Linked DNA regions of Homo sapiens: regions 1 and 2 are each linked to region 3. The links come from fine-mapping of genetic effects on gene expression. A gene starts in region 3. Each other region holds a variant in brackets. All regions are shown on one strand. Distances are from middle to middle.

Region 1 (6,339 bases), 190 kb before region 3:
TGTGCCAAGCGCTGTGTGTGTTCATGGATAAACAGGCCTCCCTTACCTGACTCAACCACAAAGGGCAAGAAGAATCGGTCTCCACAACAACAGATCAGAGAAGCCCGGGGCCCGGGCAGGAACAGCCAAGGGAAGTTTATTCAGATGCAATCACCCCAAACCCCTGCTGTCCACGAGCAACAAAAGGCAAGGAGGGATTTTTAAAGGAATCCTTGTCTCAACTCAGTTTCCTAAGACAGGGATTTCAGAGCAAGCAGTTGTGGGGCGGTGACCCCAGGAGTTGATGCAGGGTGACTGACAGGCAGGTCCCTGGCGCAGACAGTGGGGCTCTGTCCCGCCAGGAGCTCTGGTGATCAGCACAGGACACAGCTGGGTCAGCCCACCAGGGACTGGGGCTTATCCTCCAGCATCCGTCTGCCCTGGACCAAGGGCTGCTCCCAGAACCTGAGCCCGTGGCCTCCTACCCACAGGTGGTGTCACAGGTGCCTGGGGAGGGTGACCTGGGCGTGGCTGGAACTAGGGATGCTGAGGAGGTGTGGGCAGGTTCTTGCAGTGGGGACATGAGAGATGTGAAGATACACACTCGTCAAATGGCAACGGGTGTGCTGTTTCAAAGCTAGGGAAACTGAGGCCTAGAGACACAAGGAGCACTGGCAAGTTTCCTAGGAGCATAGACCAGGAGCCTGGACTGGAAGTGACTGGGCCCAGGGGACCCTGAGCTCAGGGAGAGAGGGCAGCCGCCCAGCTCGGGCCCCATGCCATCCCCCTTGGGCCTCGCCTGTGTCGTCACCATCTGCAGGCACCAGGGCCTTCCCTGTGGCTCAGAAGTCTGTCCTCAGAGTGTGTTTTTGTCCATCATTTCAGAAGATAAACTAAAGGAGTTATGAGAATTCCAGGAAATTATATATATAGGAGTCATTTCCTACGTATAATCTCTAAACATATCGTTTTGTAAATAATTTTTATTATATACAGAAATTGGAAGAATTATAGGAAGGAGCCAGGTACAGTGGCTCATGCCCATAATCCCATTTCTTTGGGAGGCCAAGGCAGGAGGATCGCTTGAGCCCAGGAGTGCAAGACCAGCCTAGGTAACATAGTGAGACCCCATCTCTGCGAAACATAAAATTAAAAAAAAAAAATTAACCAGGCCTGGCGTGTGCACCTGTGGTCCCAGTACTTTGGGAGGCTAAGGTAGGAGGATCGCTTGAGCCCAGGAGGTTAAGGCTGCGGTGAGCCAAGACTGCACCACTTACTCCAGCCTGGGCAACAGAGCAAGACCCTGACTGCTCCTTCCCACCAAAAAAGAACTATAGGAATGAACTCAGAGACCCTGACTAAGGGCAGGGGCTCAGAGACAGTCACTGTCTTCACAGAGCAACATGATAAAGGGCTGGCTCTGCGGAGGGAAACTCTGAGAACGGCCACCAGCCCCGGGCCTTCCCCTCTCACCACCCAACCCTTGAGGGAGGCCTCACCCCTCACTCTGCCTCCGCTGTTGACCTGGCTCCTGCGAAGCGAATGCAGATTCCAGTCGAGGAATGCACACCTAGACACACACCCAGGAGAGCTGCACACATCACAGCCACAGTAGCACGGCTCACAATGGCCAAAAGTGGAGAAAACACAAACATCCATTGTGGACAAACGGACACACAAAACGCTCCTCCGTGCCCTGTGGTGTCGCTCAGCCACAAAGTGACAAGGAGCCCCATCATACACCACAACACAGGCGAGCCTGGAAGCATCGTGCTGTGTGACTGTTCTAAAGAAGCTGCCACAGGGACCTTGCATTGTGCCATTTCATTCATGCCAAATGTCCAGACGAGGGAAACCTGCAGAGCCAGAGAGTGGATCTGTTGGGAGAGGCCGGGGGAAGGGAGGGTTAGAGCCCAAGGTTACTTTTGGAGGTCATGAATAGCTCCGAAACTGTGGTGATGGCTGCACGTATCTGTGAATATGCTGAAAACCACTGGATTATACAATTCAAACGGGTCAATGTATGGTGAGCGTATTACATCTTGAAAAATCTTTTTTTTTTTTAAGTGACAGCTCATGGACCCAGAAAACCACCAACCAATTCCCGCTATGGGCTTAAGGAGTGGCCTAGCAGTCTATGAATGGGGCTTGGCCCACTGGGCAGCCCCCGTCCTCCCATCCCCCCAGGTCCTTCCAGAGCACTCCATCCCCACTGAGCCACACTGAGCCTCATCTAGCAAATGGCACTTTTTTGAGAACCAAGCTCTCCTTAAAGAACAGAGCAGGAAACTCACAGTGCACTTGCAAACCTCTGGCCTTTAGAATGCCAGCTGCCAGAGACCTCTGTCACCCCAGATGTGTCAGCTGGCCCCCAGCTGCATGCTCCCCACTCGGCCCCAAAGAGGACAGGGTGGAGGCATGGCTGGACTTCCCAGGCAGCAGAACCAAAGACCGTTTGGTTTTTCAGGAGGAAGCGGGTGTCCCCAGGCTTTGGCACCCTCCATCAGAAACGCCACTGCGTGTCCAAAGCCTCAGGCTTTCTTGGGAGCAGCTTTCCGTGATGGGAGGGACAACCCACCAGCTGTCACCACTCAGCGCAGAGGCAGGCAGGTTCCCAGGGCACTGCCTGGGAATTCCGATGGGGGTGGTGCAGACTCGGCCTCAGGTTCCCAGCAGGTGCGGCTGGACAACCAGTCAAAGAGCCCCCAAAGAGCAGCCTCACCGCAGCCGTGCCCACAAAGGATCCCCAGCACGCCGAAATGCCACGAGACATCATTGTGCAACTAGCCAAGATTTCAAATGTCTCCAGAGCTTAAGCCAAGTTCCATTTTGCTGTTAGTTTCTGCTGAGATGCACAGAAGTTTGTAAAAAAGGCTGTTTTCAGGATTCACCAAAGAAATTGTTTGGGGGACTCTAAATGCCTGCAAGATCCAGAATTGGTATTTTTGAAAATTATTCCATAGCCTAAACCCACAGTCTCTGAGAAGCAAGCCATGGCGGGCAGAGGGTGTGAGGCCATCAGAGGCCTGCGCCGCAGCCCCCCCTCCAACTCACTTCCCCACTCTGAGCCACACAGCTTTGGGATCCGTGAAACTCAACCCTGGCTACACATCAGAATCACCTGGAAGATAATTCCTGGGCTCCATCCCAAACAAATTAAGTCATGGCTTCTGGCAGTGAGGCTAGGCAGAGGCATTTTTCTAGAACTTTCCAGATGATTCTAACGTGCAGCTGAAGTTGAAAACCTGATGAGATTGGCTGGGGCCTCGGTTCCTTCCAGCTCCAACATCCTTTGGCGCTTCTCTGTCACTCTGGAAGATTCTCTTCCCCCGGAAACTGAAGCAAATGCAGGGTCAGAGCAGCATTTGACCCAAGGAAGTGCCAAGCCCATCTCAGCAAAGTCACAGAGCAGGACTGACCTGCTGGGCTGAAGACAGCAGCATGGGCTACACCGGGGTAGCGACTGCTCTCACTCCTTGTCAGGACCACCGGGGCTGCTCATCCAACTGCAGGGAGCACCGAGGCAGGAGATCCATGTGGGGAGGTCTCAGGGCCAGGGCCAGGGTGGGGGCTGGAAGGTGAGTAGACGCAGAGAAAATCTCTGGGCCCACAGACCAGCAGATCCCAGCTCTCCAGGGTCACTCAAGACTGGCTGAGCCTTGACCCAGTCCC[G/A]TTTCTCCTTGACATCTAGAAGCTTTGCCTCACAGGCACCCTCCCTGCCCCCAGCTCTCCTCCCAGCCCAGCTCCTGGGGAGCTGTCTAAGGCCCAGCTCCTGCGGGGAGGCAAGGGGCAGGGAACTTCTGGCTCCAGCTCACTCCTTCTGCCACCTCGGGGTTGGGAAAGGGGCTGGTCCTCACCTCGTGTTCCTGAAGAGCTCTGAGATGTGAGCTCCCGCCGGTCTTAGGAGGATACTGGAAACTTGGAACTAACCTTCCTCTAAATGTTAAAATGTCTTGTATGTCAACCATTTTGCATGCAAATGTTTCTCAAGAAGGATTACAACATTTCTCTGCATCACTGAAGCCCGCTTTGGACAAAGCTGCCTTCCTCACGTGCCTGTTCCTTGCTTTACACAATCGCAAAGTCTGGCGGGACTGAAGGCAGGAGCGAGCTGAGCACCCTGAATGGTCGGGTGTCCCCAGCCTGCTGGCCAGGAGTCCCTTCGCCCAGCTTGTATCATTTTTCGATCTCTTCCCTTCATGAAGTCAACCTCTAAGAATCCCTCCCCTTTCTGTCATTTTATTTCTGAAACTGCTGGAGGTTTGCAGCCAGATAACCAAGTTAGAAATGTTTCCAGAGCAAGCAGCGTCCAAGTGGGGGTTACTGGTGCGTTCTGAGTACACGAGGCCCCTGCAGAGATGGGGTGTGTGAGGGTAAACAGTTTGTGTGTTTGCAGAAGGCCTGATGGAATTTTCCCACCAGAATTGTAAGGATTGCACCAGCTGATTCCAGCCTCCATAGGAGGAAAGTCCATGCAGAACCAGCGCTGAAATGGCCGGCTCACCGCTTTCGGAACAGTCTGCCCTGGTGTCCTTATCTACTCGTCTCTGTGTGTCACTGGCCAGGGGCTTGAAGGGCTGCCCTGGTTTTACATTTGGAAAAACTGAGGCCCCAAGAGGCAAAGAGGCTCCCAGGCGCACCGTGGGAAGCAGAGCCCCCCGACCCCGCGCTCCTCCCACTGCACTCTCTGTCTCTCTCCTCGCTGAGCACAGGCCTCCTGCACAGCGCCCGAGCCGCGCAGGATATGAAGAAAGGAGAGGCGTGCGCGGTCAGCCCACCCTCTTCCTTGAGCGTCTCTGCCAGGCTCCAGGCTGAGGAGTGGGGACCACCGTCTGATCTCTCCGTGGCTCAAGGGTTTCAGGCTGGTGACCACATCGGTATCTATGGCAACAGCCCCACCACGTTCGCATCCCAGAATCGGACCTCCTGGCCCAGGCCGGGGTCTCCTGACAGCGGAGGACTCAGCCAGAAGATGCAGAAGACCGCTGCTGGGAAACCCGCCGGCCTCTACCCAGCTCCACAGGCTTCTGCCCGGCTCCACCGGCTTCCCTCTCCCTCCCTGAGGCTTGGTGTCCTCCTCTATAAAATGGACAGCCCCGGCTGCCCAGCCTCCCTCACTAAATTGCCAGAACGAAGGAGGTGCTTTGAGAAGTGACAGGCACTGTGCAAACCTCAGGGGCCTCTCCCCTGTCACTCACAGGGCACCCGGTCCGCAGAGCCTCACCTCCTCGGGTGCATCCGGGGTGCTGTTCGGGCAGTGGCTCGGCAGAACCAGCAGCCAAAGTGGCTGAGGGCAGAGTCCCTGACCCCCCGACAACCCGGTCAGAACTCACTCTCCCTTGGTGCCCGGAACGCAGAGGCGCTTCGGAAACAAGATTTCTCATCTGGGTAATTTCGGGATGGCTCCTTCGCCTCGGAACCTGACTTCACTGCCGGGGTCCGCCTCTTACCCCATCCCTGTCTGCCCCCTGCACGCTCAGCCCACTCCTCCCTCCCAAATGTCCCCAGCTCTCTCAGGTCCTCCACCTTGACTGAGAATTCCAGATTTACAGCCTGGGCAACATGGCAAAACCTCACCTCTAAAAAAACACAAAAATTAGCCTGCCACCTAATTAACCAGGCACGTGCCTGTAGTTCCAGCTACCTGGGAGGCTGAGGTGGGAGGATGGCTGGAGCCCAGGTGGTCAGGGGTGCCATGAGTCAAGATCATACCCTGCCCTCCAGTCTGGATGACAGACTAAGACCCTATCTATCTCAAAAAAAAAAAAAAAAAAAGACAGAGAGAGAGAGAGAGAGAGAATTCCAGATTTTGGTCCCGCTCATGTAATTCCCAATTTCACTTGGCAAACGTGGCCTCTCCCTGACTATCCTCCAACTTAGCATCAGTGAGGCCCAGAAATGGCAGCACAGGGCAGCCAGCAGGGTGTGGTGATGGAGCTGTTGCTGTAAGGCACGTGGATACATTGATGCCAGAGGTCACGTCCCCCTTGCCCACCCCTCCCAAGGAGGACGTGCAGGGCTGGACTGGGTGAGAGCCTCACTGATCCAGGGCCTTGGACTCCTCCCCTGGCACGCACAGTGGGTGGTGTTTTACCCATCCTCCTACGAGTCACTCCTTTCCAAGTGCCACATCCCCAGAGGACGTGCCAGGTGCGGCTGCTGACTGCGCTGGGGCCCCATTAAGGCATCTGTCTGCCTGACTGCACAGCTTAGGTCATCATTGGACGGGGTAGGACCCCGTGGACCCGGCTTCCCTTGCATCTCTCAGCTCTTCTGGGAAGGAGGCCACCTCCAGCACTAGCCCAGGAGACGAGTCAGTTACTGGCGTCAGAAGGGGAGGCCCACCAGAGAGAAAGAGAG
Region 2 (5,000 bases), 840 kb after region 3:
ACATGGGGGTTGGGGGGCAGCAGGGCCTGGGGGCGCAGACAGCGTGTAGGAGAGGCTGGGGAGTTTGAAGCAGGTTTTGAAAGGGAAGGCCCTGGGGGCCCCCCGAGGGGTTCCTGGGAACCTGCAGGAGGTGGTGCCTCATGGGCAGTGCAGGAGACCTGCTTCCTGCTGGAATGTTTGATAGGGCTCCGGGCAAATGATGGCAACTTGGATAAATACAAGACTGGGAGCCAAATGAAAACACTGAAGCATTTATAAATCTTTTTTTTTTTTTTTTTTGAGACAGTGTCTCACTCTGTCACCCAGGCTGGAGTGCAGTGGCACGATCTCAGCTTACTGCAGCCTCCGCCTCCCGGGTTCAAGCAATTCTCCTACTTCAGTCTCCCAAGTAGCTGGGACTACAGGCAGGTGCCACCATGCCCAGCTAATTTTTGTTTCGCCATGTTGGCCACTGGTCTTGAACTCCTGATCTCAGGTAATCCACCTGCCTTGGCCTCCCAAAGTGCTGGGATTACAGGCGTGAGCCACCGCACCTGGCCAGCATTTTAAAATCTTGATATAAGTGATGTAAAATAATAAACAAAAGAATTTGGATGGTAGAATGAAGACCGCAGGAAAAAGCAAAGGCAACAGCTTGCAGACATTCTATCAATCGTGTCATGAAGTGCACTGAGAAAAAATTGCACCTGAACCTCCAAGAGACGCCATTTCCATCCCAGGAGTCCCGCAGCCCCCACCCCGATTCCATCCCAGGGGTCCCGCAGCCCCCACCCTGATTCCATCAGAGCTGCTCTTAGTGCGGATGTTCTTGGATTTTCTTTTGAAATTGCCTTTGAGGCCTCATCATAAATATGAGCCTTCTATGTCATAGCCATAGAATATTTGTGATTAACATTTTCTCTAATCAAATTTCATTCATTTACCCTGATCCCAAATAACTTTAGACTGCCTCCAAAACTGAGGAGATCCAAGATCATGCTTCCCTTCTTCCTCAGGGCAGAGTCCCCCAAAGTCAACACCATGGCAGCCCCGTCCTGCAGGCGTGAGGCTCCCTGAGGTGACCTCTTCAGGAGATGGTGACCCCGAGATGTCTACTTTTGATCCTAGATTCACGTATATTAATCTCTGAGATTCCCTACTCAGGGATGCTCCATTCCGAACTCGCCAGACCCCAGAACCAGTGAGTGATGGCTGGTAGCGGTCACATAATAAAATAATACCTGCATCCAACTCCGGGTGGAGGTAGGGCAGCATGGGAGGCTGGACCCCTGAGGGATGTTGAGTGCATGGAGCCATGCCTCAGCGGGGAGTATGTTAAGGAGACCCTCAGCAGAGGGAGAAGGAAAGGGCCCCCGGCACAGACAGTCCTCCAACATCCTTGGCCTTACACTGAACAGGGGACCCCAGGGTCTCTGCTGACCTTGGCAGAAGCGTCATTCACATTCTCGCACGTGACCAGATAGAGCAAGGTTCCACCAGGCCTGATGGGAACCTCTGCACTCACCAGCGCCATGCCCTGCCCTGCCTTCGGGAACCACCTTCAGATTCCTTGGGGTCCTCGAAAACGCAAGTGTGCCCAGCCCTAGAGGCTGTCACCCCACGGCCTCTAGCAGGCCAGTTTCTAGTTCAGCTCCGGAAACTAGCAGGACTTACCTGGGACGAGGACACCGTGATGTGATAGAATTTCCCTCGTCCTCCCTGGGGGATGGCTCTGATGAAGAAAAACTTTCGGCCATCCTTGGAGAACACAGGTTCTTCATTCTGTGGACAAAGGCCACGGATGAAACCACAACTAAAACATCATTTATTCTGAAGAGGTTGAACCAGGATAAAATACACCCCGAGATACATTTTCTATGTGATTTCTAAGGAGAGGAACAGTTGAAATAATAAGTGCTTGATGAGGCCGTCACTTTCCTCGGGAATCATGAGTCAACTGTTACGTTTTCTAAAAGAAGAAGATGGAGGAATTAAGAGGCTACAGCCCCGGCAGTGGCAAATAAAAAGGCATCCCTCAGTCTACACAGCACCGAGACAAAGCCCAGCCCCATGTGCACGCCAAGCTCACCAGTGAGAACAGGAACTCTGCTCTCAAAACTCAAAAGGAGGTGCTTCCTCCTTGAATTATTGCCCATTGAAACCAGAGTGTATTGTGAGATTTCTCCAGTGGCATTTATTATATATCAGAAAAAAACATAATTCTCAACAATCCCAAACCAGATTTTGCCTAAAAGCAAAATCTATTCTTTCAATCCTGTCTTTTCTTCTTATTGAATACAATTGATCTCACACTGAATAGCCCATCAAGAAGGCAAGAAAAAAAGAAAATAAACACAAGGACAAATGCCACGGGTTCTAAAACACAGGTGGGAGGGGACAGCAGTCCCAGGGACACGCTCCACCTCGGGCCACACTGGATGACAACACTTGCTTGGATCTACTGTCTCTTTTCCCTGGAAACAGAATCAGCATGCCCAGTTTTCCCTGGGGGAAGGGTTCCAGGCTGGATTTAGGGCAGGTGTC[G/A]CCACCATCTCTGCCTGGTCCCCGGACAGTGAACAGCCAGCGGCCTCAGCCTTCCACCAGCCCACAGGGTGGCTGTTGCTTTGATGGGCGAAAAAGGATTTTGCTACCGCGGTACCTTGGCCTCTCTGAAGCCCAAGTTTGAAAGTTTCCATCCGTGAACACCAATTAGTTGGTTGCGAGATGTATTTTCTGACTCAAGGAGCTTCACACGAATGCGGGGATGAGAACTAATGGTAAATAAACCCCAGCTGGCACAAGCAAAACTCATTTCCCTACAGTGAGTGAACCCATGCAGATATGATATGCCCAGAGAAATAAACTAACATGTGATTAAAATGACATTTAATCTTCATGAATATTTGCAATAAAATGGAACCTTTAATCTGCAAACATTTATTTTCCTATTTAGAGTTGGAAGCATGGTATTTAAAAGCAGAGGAAATGGAAAAACCAGCGGTTAATTTGGCTTTTAAAATGCACTTCTATTTGCCAACTGTGCGGCGGGTAGCGCTATATTCCTTCAGTTTTCTGGGGGAAATGTTTGCACGTTTGGCAGACAAAGATACTCTAAATAAATGTAATAAATAATTAATTCTGGCCAGAAGCATTGTTTTTATAATAAGAAGGCCTCCACCGTTGTGATGTCATCTCTACCTTGTCAGGGAAACATTCCTCGGAACACAGGTGAAGCCTCTGAGTCTCTCTGAGACCCGGTTTCTCATGTGGTAAATGTATTTTTAGTGACAAAGTGCAATGATTGTTGACCAGGGGACCTGGATTTTATCCTGGTTCTGTCTCTCATTTGATTTTGGGGGAAGCGTTTCTAGTCTCTCTGGATAACAGAATTTATCACACACAATGCCTGGTTTCCTCAACTCCACTCAGCAGATCTGTGAAGAAGGAGCCCTTTTGACTCATGAGAGCTTCTTTGTGAGTTATTTGTAGCATTTTTGCCAGTGTTTTTTTCCCATGGTTCAGATATAATAATTTTGTCCAACCCCCCTTCCAGCCCAAATTTTGAAATCACAAAACCAAAATTCCGATAAAAGAATAAAGACAGTCAGAAATGGATCCATGGAACCGATCCTTCAACCAAAACAATAGGCTCTGGGGTTCTATGGCAAATGCAGATGGTTCTGGCAGAGGATCCTCATGGGTCTGCATCAGGACTGACTCTGCAGGGTCAGCGCAGCAGTGACAGGGTGTGTATGTGGCAGGGGGGATTGCCTGCTTCTCTGGAATATTCCTAGAGGAGAGGGAACTTGGTGGGTCTCCACACATGCATTTTCCTCTTCTGTTTGGCTCATGGGGAATCTCTGCGGGTGACCGTACTGAGGATTCCAGGAAGGAGTTGGGAAGAGAAGAGAGGAGGATGAACGGCTCAGATGAACAGCTCAGATGACACAAAATTAGCAGGCTCGCTACAACTCACCTCTGTTCTTGCACCGGGTCCTTGGAAGATCGGTGGACCTAAGCAGGCCGGGTCTCCCTGAGGTCTGCAGGACCTTCCAGATGCCAGTTTCTCCTGGGCCAGCTGGGGCAAGCTTCTGTGACCCATTGGAGATGGATGGGTAGAGGGCATGTGGCCTCCATGTGTCTCCCTCACTCATGCCTGCAGCCCTCCCAGGAAAACCCCCTTAGGCTCTGTCTGAAGCAGCAGCCAATGGCTTCGCTGGCAGCAGGTGGCAGGTTCAGTCTTAAAAAGTTACTAAGTTGTTCTCCAGGATATCACAGTAACTCGAGGGATGCAGAAACACTACAGATTGTTTTTGAAAAATAGGGTCCATGAATTCCTTTACGAAAAAAACAATGTCATAAGAAACTGTTTGAAATTAAATCTTCCTGCAGACCATGGAGCTGCAATCTTCACAGGTGCAGACTCACAACCTGTAGGGTCTTCAGAGACATCCTGGCCTCCCAACTGCTGCCATGGGCGGGATGCCCCAACCCAGTGTCACAATCACAACTGCAGCTGATGGGCTGACCTGACCCAGGGACGCTCCATCCCAGGAAAACACACCTGTCACAGAACCTTATGTTTCCAACTCATGGCAGCATTGCATACGTTTAAGCAGCTATTTTAAAAATTTAGCTGTGTGCTTAGTAAATGCTTTAAACTTTACATTTGAAAACAGTAAGAATTATTTTAATTCATGCCACCTTTTAAGTGTTGACTGGATTCTGCTTGGAAGGATCTGGTTTCTGGAATCCCATTCAGGCTGTCTTACCCCACACTTTAGTAGCTGTTCTCATATGGGCGATGAGACACACAATCGCTAATACAGGAAAGTCCTGCTGACGACCTCGGCTCTGTAGCTACTCTGTAGAGCTAATGAAGTGAGCGCTGGAGGACAGAACCACGGCCCCCCATGGGCCTCCAGGGACCATGCACTCTGCCGTCCATCCAGAGGGCAGAACTGCAGGTGGCCAGCTGGGAAGCCAGCTCCCCCTGTGAGAATGCCTCTTGAGGGGGACAG
Region 3 (6,339 bases):
CCCAGGAGTCCAAGGCTGCAATTAGCCATGATTATACGACTGCACTCCAGTCTGGGCAACACAGCAAGACCCTGTCTCAAAAAAAAAAGTAAAAAATAAGCAAACACTCCTATAGACACTTTGTGGTACCCATTTTGGCTATCCAGATTGTGGATAGCCAAGACCTATTTTATTCAATAAATACTAACCACTTACTATACAAGAGACCAGTGATTTTCAAACTGACAATCTCGAACATTTTGTAGGTTGTGAAATTAATCCAGGTCACAACCAGCATTTTACTGTAATGAAATAGAAAACATTAGAGTGCATGGCATAGTATGGACCAGTATTGTTCATGAAATTTTTTTTAACTTTTATGTATGTACTAAATCACAATGTCAATCACATTTCTGTGGCTGCCATTTTAAGAAGTTTGAAAGTCACTGTGCTAGACAATATGCTAAACTGAGCTGCCAAATAAGCTATCGATAGCTCAATAAGGTATTACCAATGTAAATATTTCTCCAAGCTAACATGATTTAATCAGTTACACAGGTAAATCACGTGGAAATGACTAACATAACTTAGCATACAATTATATTATTTCCTATTCGTAAAGAAAACATTTCATCCTTTAATTCATTCACCAAATGTTTGTTGAACACATGCTATGTGCCAGGAACACGTGGAACGCATGGTAAAACAGGTAGCATTTTTGTCCTCATGAGGTTTACAGGCTACTGTGGGAGGCAGATTTAAAAAACAAGTAAAAACTGAAGAAAATTACAAATTAAGATAAACGTTCTGAAGAAAACAAACAAAGGTGCTAGAGAATGAAGACAAGAGAGGCACAAGAGCAACGGACATACATTCCTCAGATACAATGAATTCTCAAGGAAAGCCTCCCTTAAAAGCGTGAGATCCACTGGATCAGGAGTCAGCCCTGGCAAGAGCGGGTACAGGAGCAGTCCATGCGATGAACTTCCAGGATAAAGGAAGCAATCACACAACATGCTGGTGGGGTAGGCAGGGACCAAGTCATACAGAACTCACAAATCTTGGCAAGGAGTTTGGTATGAAGAGCAAAGGAAACTTTGGCACTTGTGACAAAATGGAAGGAAAAACTCCAAAGCATCATGAATAAAGCCTACTTATTCTTCTAAAATAGCAATTCTCAAAACTTCTGACCTCAAAATTATTGAAGACCCAAAAATGCCTGTTTATCTGGATTACATTCAGTGATATTACTATTTTAGAAATTTAAAATGAGAAACGTAAAAGAATACACAAGCATATATTCCATTAGCCATCAGCATAACGTCTTCACATGTTATTCAGCCTCTAGAAAACTCCACTGTACACTACTGAAAGAAAAGAGAAAAAATACAAATAACACCTTAGTCTTTCTAATGAAAAGAGTGTTCACCCAAGAGTTCCCAGGTTACACTGGGAATGCTATAAAACAAGTAATTCTGACCCCCAGAAAGATAGGTGAACTATACATTTTAAAATTTTAATTAGTCTCAGATGTAACACGCAAACATCATGTATTTAAACTGAAAGAAAAGTGGCATATAGCAAACCAAATTGCCAGAAGCGACATTCCTACACTTAGTCTTTTTTGTTTTTCCATTTTGTCAGGCAAACGTTTTGACAGTTGGGCCAAAATTCCTAAACAGGATGATAACAACGTAACCATCTGCTAGCATTTACTAAAAAATACTTCTCGAGTATACACTAGACTGGCTTTTCAACGTTTCAATGGTAAGAACTAATCCCAAATGCTTTTGTTATCCATATTTTACCATCTTTTCAAAGTTTTCAAAATAATCACTTAAAAAGTCACTTTCAAGTATCTCTCCACGTTTTTAAAACCCCCAGTGATATGTAATTTTACCTGAAAGTAATTTACCTACAATTTTTTAGAGATAGGTGTTTCATCAATACTGTTTATGCTTGCAAACAAGAAAAACTATCCAAAGGAACTGACTCAGTATCTAAACCTTTTGTGTCACGTTTTCACTTTTGGAAGACGCACATAAAACACTAACAGGTTATTAGACAACAAATAAGTTAATTTAAAACAGGGATTTATTGAGACTTTCTCAAGAAATCTCACTTTCCAAACTGGCCTACTGTCGCACATTCCTTCACACAGGTGAATCTTTTCGTTATGTTTTTGTAATGGGCTTCAAATCAATCTAAATCTGTCAGGATGGCCCCACAATCTTAAACACCCACCCTACAGCGACCTGCCCCGCTCTCCCTAAGTGACACTGTCTCGGGGGGTGGGGGGGGCGCTCTCCTACCCATAGGACACCAGGCCGGCTTCGGCACTTAATGCCCGCCAACGCCAGAGATGGGCCTGACACTTAGGCAGCCTTGCAAAGTAGAGGACACACAGAAGTTCACAGGTAAGTACGATCTGCACAGCGGAGAGGAGGAGCGAGAAAGGGAGAATGACAATAGCGAGGGAAGGCGAGGGAGAAAACGGAATAGGCCGAACACAAAGAGAGTCGGAGCCGGGGAGAGCCTCGTCCTCTCCTAAGCGGGGAGGCCCCCCGGCCTACACCCCCGCCCACCGCGGCGCGGTCCTGGCCCCCAGAGTCCGGCTGCCTCACGTACCTCCGGCGCCTGCTCCTCCGCTCGCTCCCAGGGCGGCCGCCATGGCACTCGCGGGGCCCGGCCTTCAGCCTCCCCCACCAAGCCAGCTGGTGGGCCGACGTGCCTGGTCCGGGCCCGGGTACGGGTGACGGAGGACAGAGAAGGGAGGGGGCTGCAGGAGGCAGAGGCGAAGCCGGGCGCTTCGCGGTCCACAGCTGGCCCTTCGCCTCCGCAGGAAGAAAACAACAAACTACCGCAACATGGCCGCGCGCCCGCGCCCGCCGCGGTGCACCCTGGGATGATGGAGGCCGGGAGGCGGGCGGGCGCCGGGGCCTGCCCCCGCCGAGGCCGCAGCAGCCCTGAGGCCGCCGCCGTGTTTCGGGCGGTGGGCGTGCAACGCAAACACGCGGCAGTCACCTCCGCCCGGCTCCTGAAACCCAAATGTTTGAAGCAGGGCGGGGACGACTGCTGGCCATAGGTCGATTCCGGGTTCAGTCGTAAGGCGCTTTGCAGCAGTCGGCAAAGCGAAGCTTTACGGCAGCCCGTCTCCCGTTAGGAGCCGGGGAGGCAAGGTCCAGCGTACGGTCCGGGGGAACCTTAACTGTCGTTTCTGTGCCTGGACAGTAGGTTGGAGAGTGGGGTCTGAATGAGCTACAGTAGTGAACGCCGACGGCTTGTGTTGAGGGCAGGAAAGGGTGCACACAGCTCCGGCAGGTGCTTCCGCGAGGTGAGATGAGTGCCGCGCGCGCCGGGCTAACGTGCACGCGCACTCGTGCGGCGCCCGCGAGCCCTCACTTCCTACAACCCGAGACCCTCCGGACCCGCGACCCCGGACCCCCGTCCCCTTCTCCGCGCCCGGCTGGGCAGCGGGCAGCGCCGGACCCTGATGGGCTCTCGGCCCTTACTGCCCCTGCGCCTTGCGGCCCTGAGAACAAGACGTGAGCAGGACGGATAGCGCCCGGCACTCATGTCTGAGTTTGCATTTTGAGCAGTGAGAAAGGTTAAGAAACGAAATCCTCATACTTGACATAAAGGAAAGGGTGCTGGGTGGTCAGACAGCTGTGGACGAAAGGGCTCAGGGGTTTTGGGGTGTGGGGCCCGGGAAGGCGCATCTGAGTGGTCGCAGTCGGGGAAGGGGGTTGATTAAGTACACACCGGCTGTAAACATTGATTCCATATCGGTCAATGTGGGGCTTAGGTGAGGCGTTCTGACCCAGCAATGAAACTGGAAAGGTAGGCAGGGGCCAGGATTCCGGACTTTGGGACGTTTTTCTGAGTCTATGGGGTCTATTGAAAGATTTTAGAAACAATTTACATGGTAAGATTTGTATTTTAGAAAGGTGACTGATACAACAACGTAGAGGACCCTGCAATGTGGAGAGGCATGAAACTGGAGGTCCAGTGCCGTGAGTTAACAATCAAGACGTCCATACAGGAGATGCATTGGTGGATGGGTGAAGAGATGATAAAACGGTACGTATAATAAAATGCTGGCCGGGCGCGGTGGCTCACGCCTGTAATCCCACCACTTTGGGAGGCTGAGGTGGGTGGATCACGAGGTCAGGAGTTTGAGACCAGCCTGACCAACATGGTGAAACCCCGTCTCTACTAAAAATACAAAAATTAGTTGGGCGTGGTGGCACGCGCCTGTAATCCCAGCTACTCAGGAGGCTGAGGCAGGAGAATTGCTTGAATCGAGGAGGCGGAGGTTGCAGTGAGCCGAGATTGCGCCACGGCAATCCAGCCTGGGTGACAGAGCGAGATTCTGTCTCAAAAAAAAACAAAAAAATTATTCAACTGTGAGAACTCACTCCCCAAAAAAAATGTTTTGCAAGCAACTCATTGAAAAATGGTCTCTATTAAAAAGCACGTTAATACATCCATATTTAAATGGCTTGAACTCTTTATCACCTTTCATTATTTTTTGAACTGTGGAGGATGGCATGCCTAACTCAGAAAATATTTTTCAGGATAATTCAGTGGTGATCTTCAGAAGAATTCCACAAAAAACCAAATTAACAGATGAAACAATCTCATAAGCCACTTGAAACTGAATTTCTCTAGAACAAGAGTCTATAAAATTTTTTGATCAAACACCCACTGGAAAAATTTTTTAGCGTGGACACCCAGTATTTGAAGTTCTTGGTAAATTACTGTGAGTAAAGATTTAACCAACCCCTTGTCCTTATCTATGAACAAACTTCACTTTGTGTTAACTTTAACTTGTCATAGAAACCTTATGAAGGCAGAGTGTTCATTGTGGTATAAAACAACATTGGTTGTAGGCCAGGCGCGGTGGCTCACGCCTGTAATCCCAACACTTTGGGAGGCCAAGACAGGTGGATCACCTGAGGTCAGGAGTTCAAGACCAGCCTGGCCCACATGGCAAAACCCCATCCCTACTAAAAATACAAAAATTAGCTGGGTGTGGTGGCACATGCATGTAATCCCAGCTACCTGGGAGGCTGAGGCACAAGAATCACTTGAACTCAGGAGGTGGAGGTTGCAGTGAGCCGAGATCACACCACTACACTCCAGCCTAGGTGACAAGAGTGAAACTCCATCTCCAAATAAATAAATAAAACATTGCTCATGGTAAAAATGACCTCTGACATGTAGACTGCCTCTGGCTTGAAAGTACTGAATAATCTTAAAACACCTAGTGGGAAGCCATACCTTTAGCCTCTGTTACTGTCTTAACTGAATGTGGGAATCTAAAAGACAAACTCAGGGAACTGGTTTCCCGCCGGTCAAGGACTTCCAAGCCAAGCCCCCACCCATAATGGTTTGCTCCTGAATTGCATTTGGGCCAAAGAGTAGAGCTCTTCCATGCCTGTACCGCAGTGAAGTGTGTTTCTTCTCCTCAGTCCTCCAAAGTGGAGCTGCTGCCAGGCGTGGCATTATATGAGTGTCAGGGGTTAAACCTAAGAAGACTACCTAGTGAGCGCTGCAGTTTCATACATATCCTACTGAAAATCTTAAAAGCAAGCTTTGCTTTTTTGTAAATAAAGCGAATATAGAAGTCTTTCTCGTCTCAGTAATGATGAACTGGAAATTCTGTTCCCCTCCTCCAACAAAACAGATTCTGTGGAAAACATTTTTTGTTGTATTGCTAGGTTTTAGGAATAATGTTTCCAAAGGATCAAGAAGGAAGCAAAACGCTGGGCACAGTGGCTCACACCTGTAATCCCAATGCATTGGGAGGCTAAGCAGGTGGTTATCACTTGAGCCAAGGATTTCAAGAGCAGCATGGGCAACATGGCAAAACCCCATTTCTACAAAAAATAAAAATAAAAATAGCCAAGCATGGTGGTGCATACCTTTAACTGCTTTGCATAACTACTCTGGAGGCTGAGGCGGAAGGATCATCTGAGTCCAGGAGTTCGAGGTTATAATGAGCTGTAATAGCACCACTGCACTCCAGTCTGGGTGACCAAACAGAACCCCATCTCTTAAGCAAAACAAACAAACAAAAAAAAAACAGATCCAAAGCCTGAGCAGTTAGTAGTGTACAGGAAGTTCAGGGTTTCACTGGGGAAGTCATCCCCATTTGCACTGCTAATAGGAAGCAAATTCTTGGACAGCTTTTGAGGAGGGAATCTAAACCCCAGGCTCCCAAATTAGGCCAGAGATCCTGGAAGGGCTTTCTCAAATTATCCCCTTATATTCTTCACAGTTTAAGGTCAACCAACTATGGACTTAAAATCAAAGATCACAAAATGCACGAGGGAAGAAACCACTGTAAGTGAAAAA

Which allele goes with the higher level. Positions count from the first base shown, and alleles are read on the strand shown. Sizes are in standard deviations (SD) of each study's normalised expression. Not every link is listed here.
In carriers of allele G in region 2, the expression in lymphoblastoid cells of the gene that starts at base 2,866 in region 3 tends to be lower than with A alone (moderate effect, 0.66 SD a copy in GENCORD).

What was found. PIP is the estimated chance that this variant, and not a neighbour inherited with it, causes the effect.
Region 1: its variant is fine-mapped to the expression of RBM33 in lymphoblastoid cells (GENCORD, PIP 0.95).
Region 2: its variant is fine-mapped to the expression of RBM33 in lymphoblastoid cells (GENCORD, PIP 0.95).

Annotation. Positions count from the first base shown.
Region 1 is chr7:155,830,047-155,836,385 of GRCh38, reverse strand. No RefSeq gene overlaps it. Among named protein-coding and RNA genes, the nearest start is that of SHH, 21 kb to the right of the region's middle. RefSeq lists an enhancer at 14-1,006. The variant G/A (reference allele first, on the strand shown) is at 3,652.
Region 2 is chr7:154,798,116-154,803,115 of GRCh38, reverse strand. DPP6 (dipeptidyl peptidase like 6) reads right to left here. Exons shown (of 26, transcript NM_130797.4): 13 at 1,654-1,761. Among named protein-coding and RNA genes, the nearest start is that of PAXIP1-AS2, 130 kb to the left of the region's middle. The variant G/A (reference allele first, on the strand shown) is at 2,524.
Region 3 is chr7:155,641,188-155,647,526 of GRCh38, reverse strand. It overlaps RBM33 (RNA binding motif protein 33), which reads right to left and starts at 2,866. Exons shown (of 18, transcript NM_053043.3): 1 at 2,608-2,866. The coding sequence starts at 2,650. It overlaps RBM33-DT (RBM33 divergent transcript), which reads left to right and starts at 3,121. Exons shown (of 3, transcript NR_126344.1): 1 at 3,121-3,313; 2 at 3,923-4,059; 3 at 4,557-5,611. RefSeq lists a silencer at 2,539-3,048 and an enhancer at 2,973-3,927.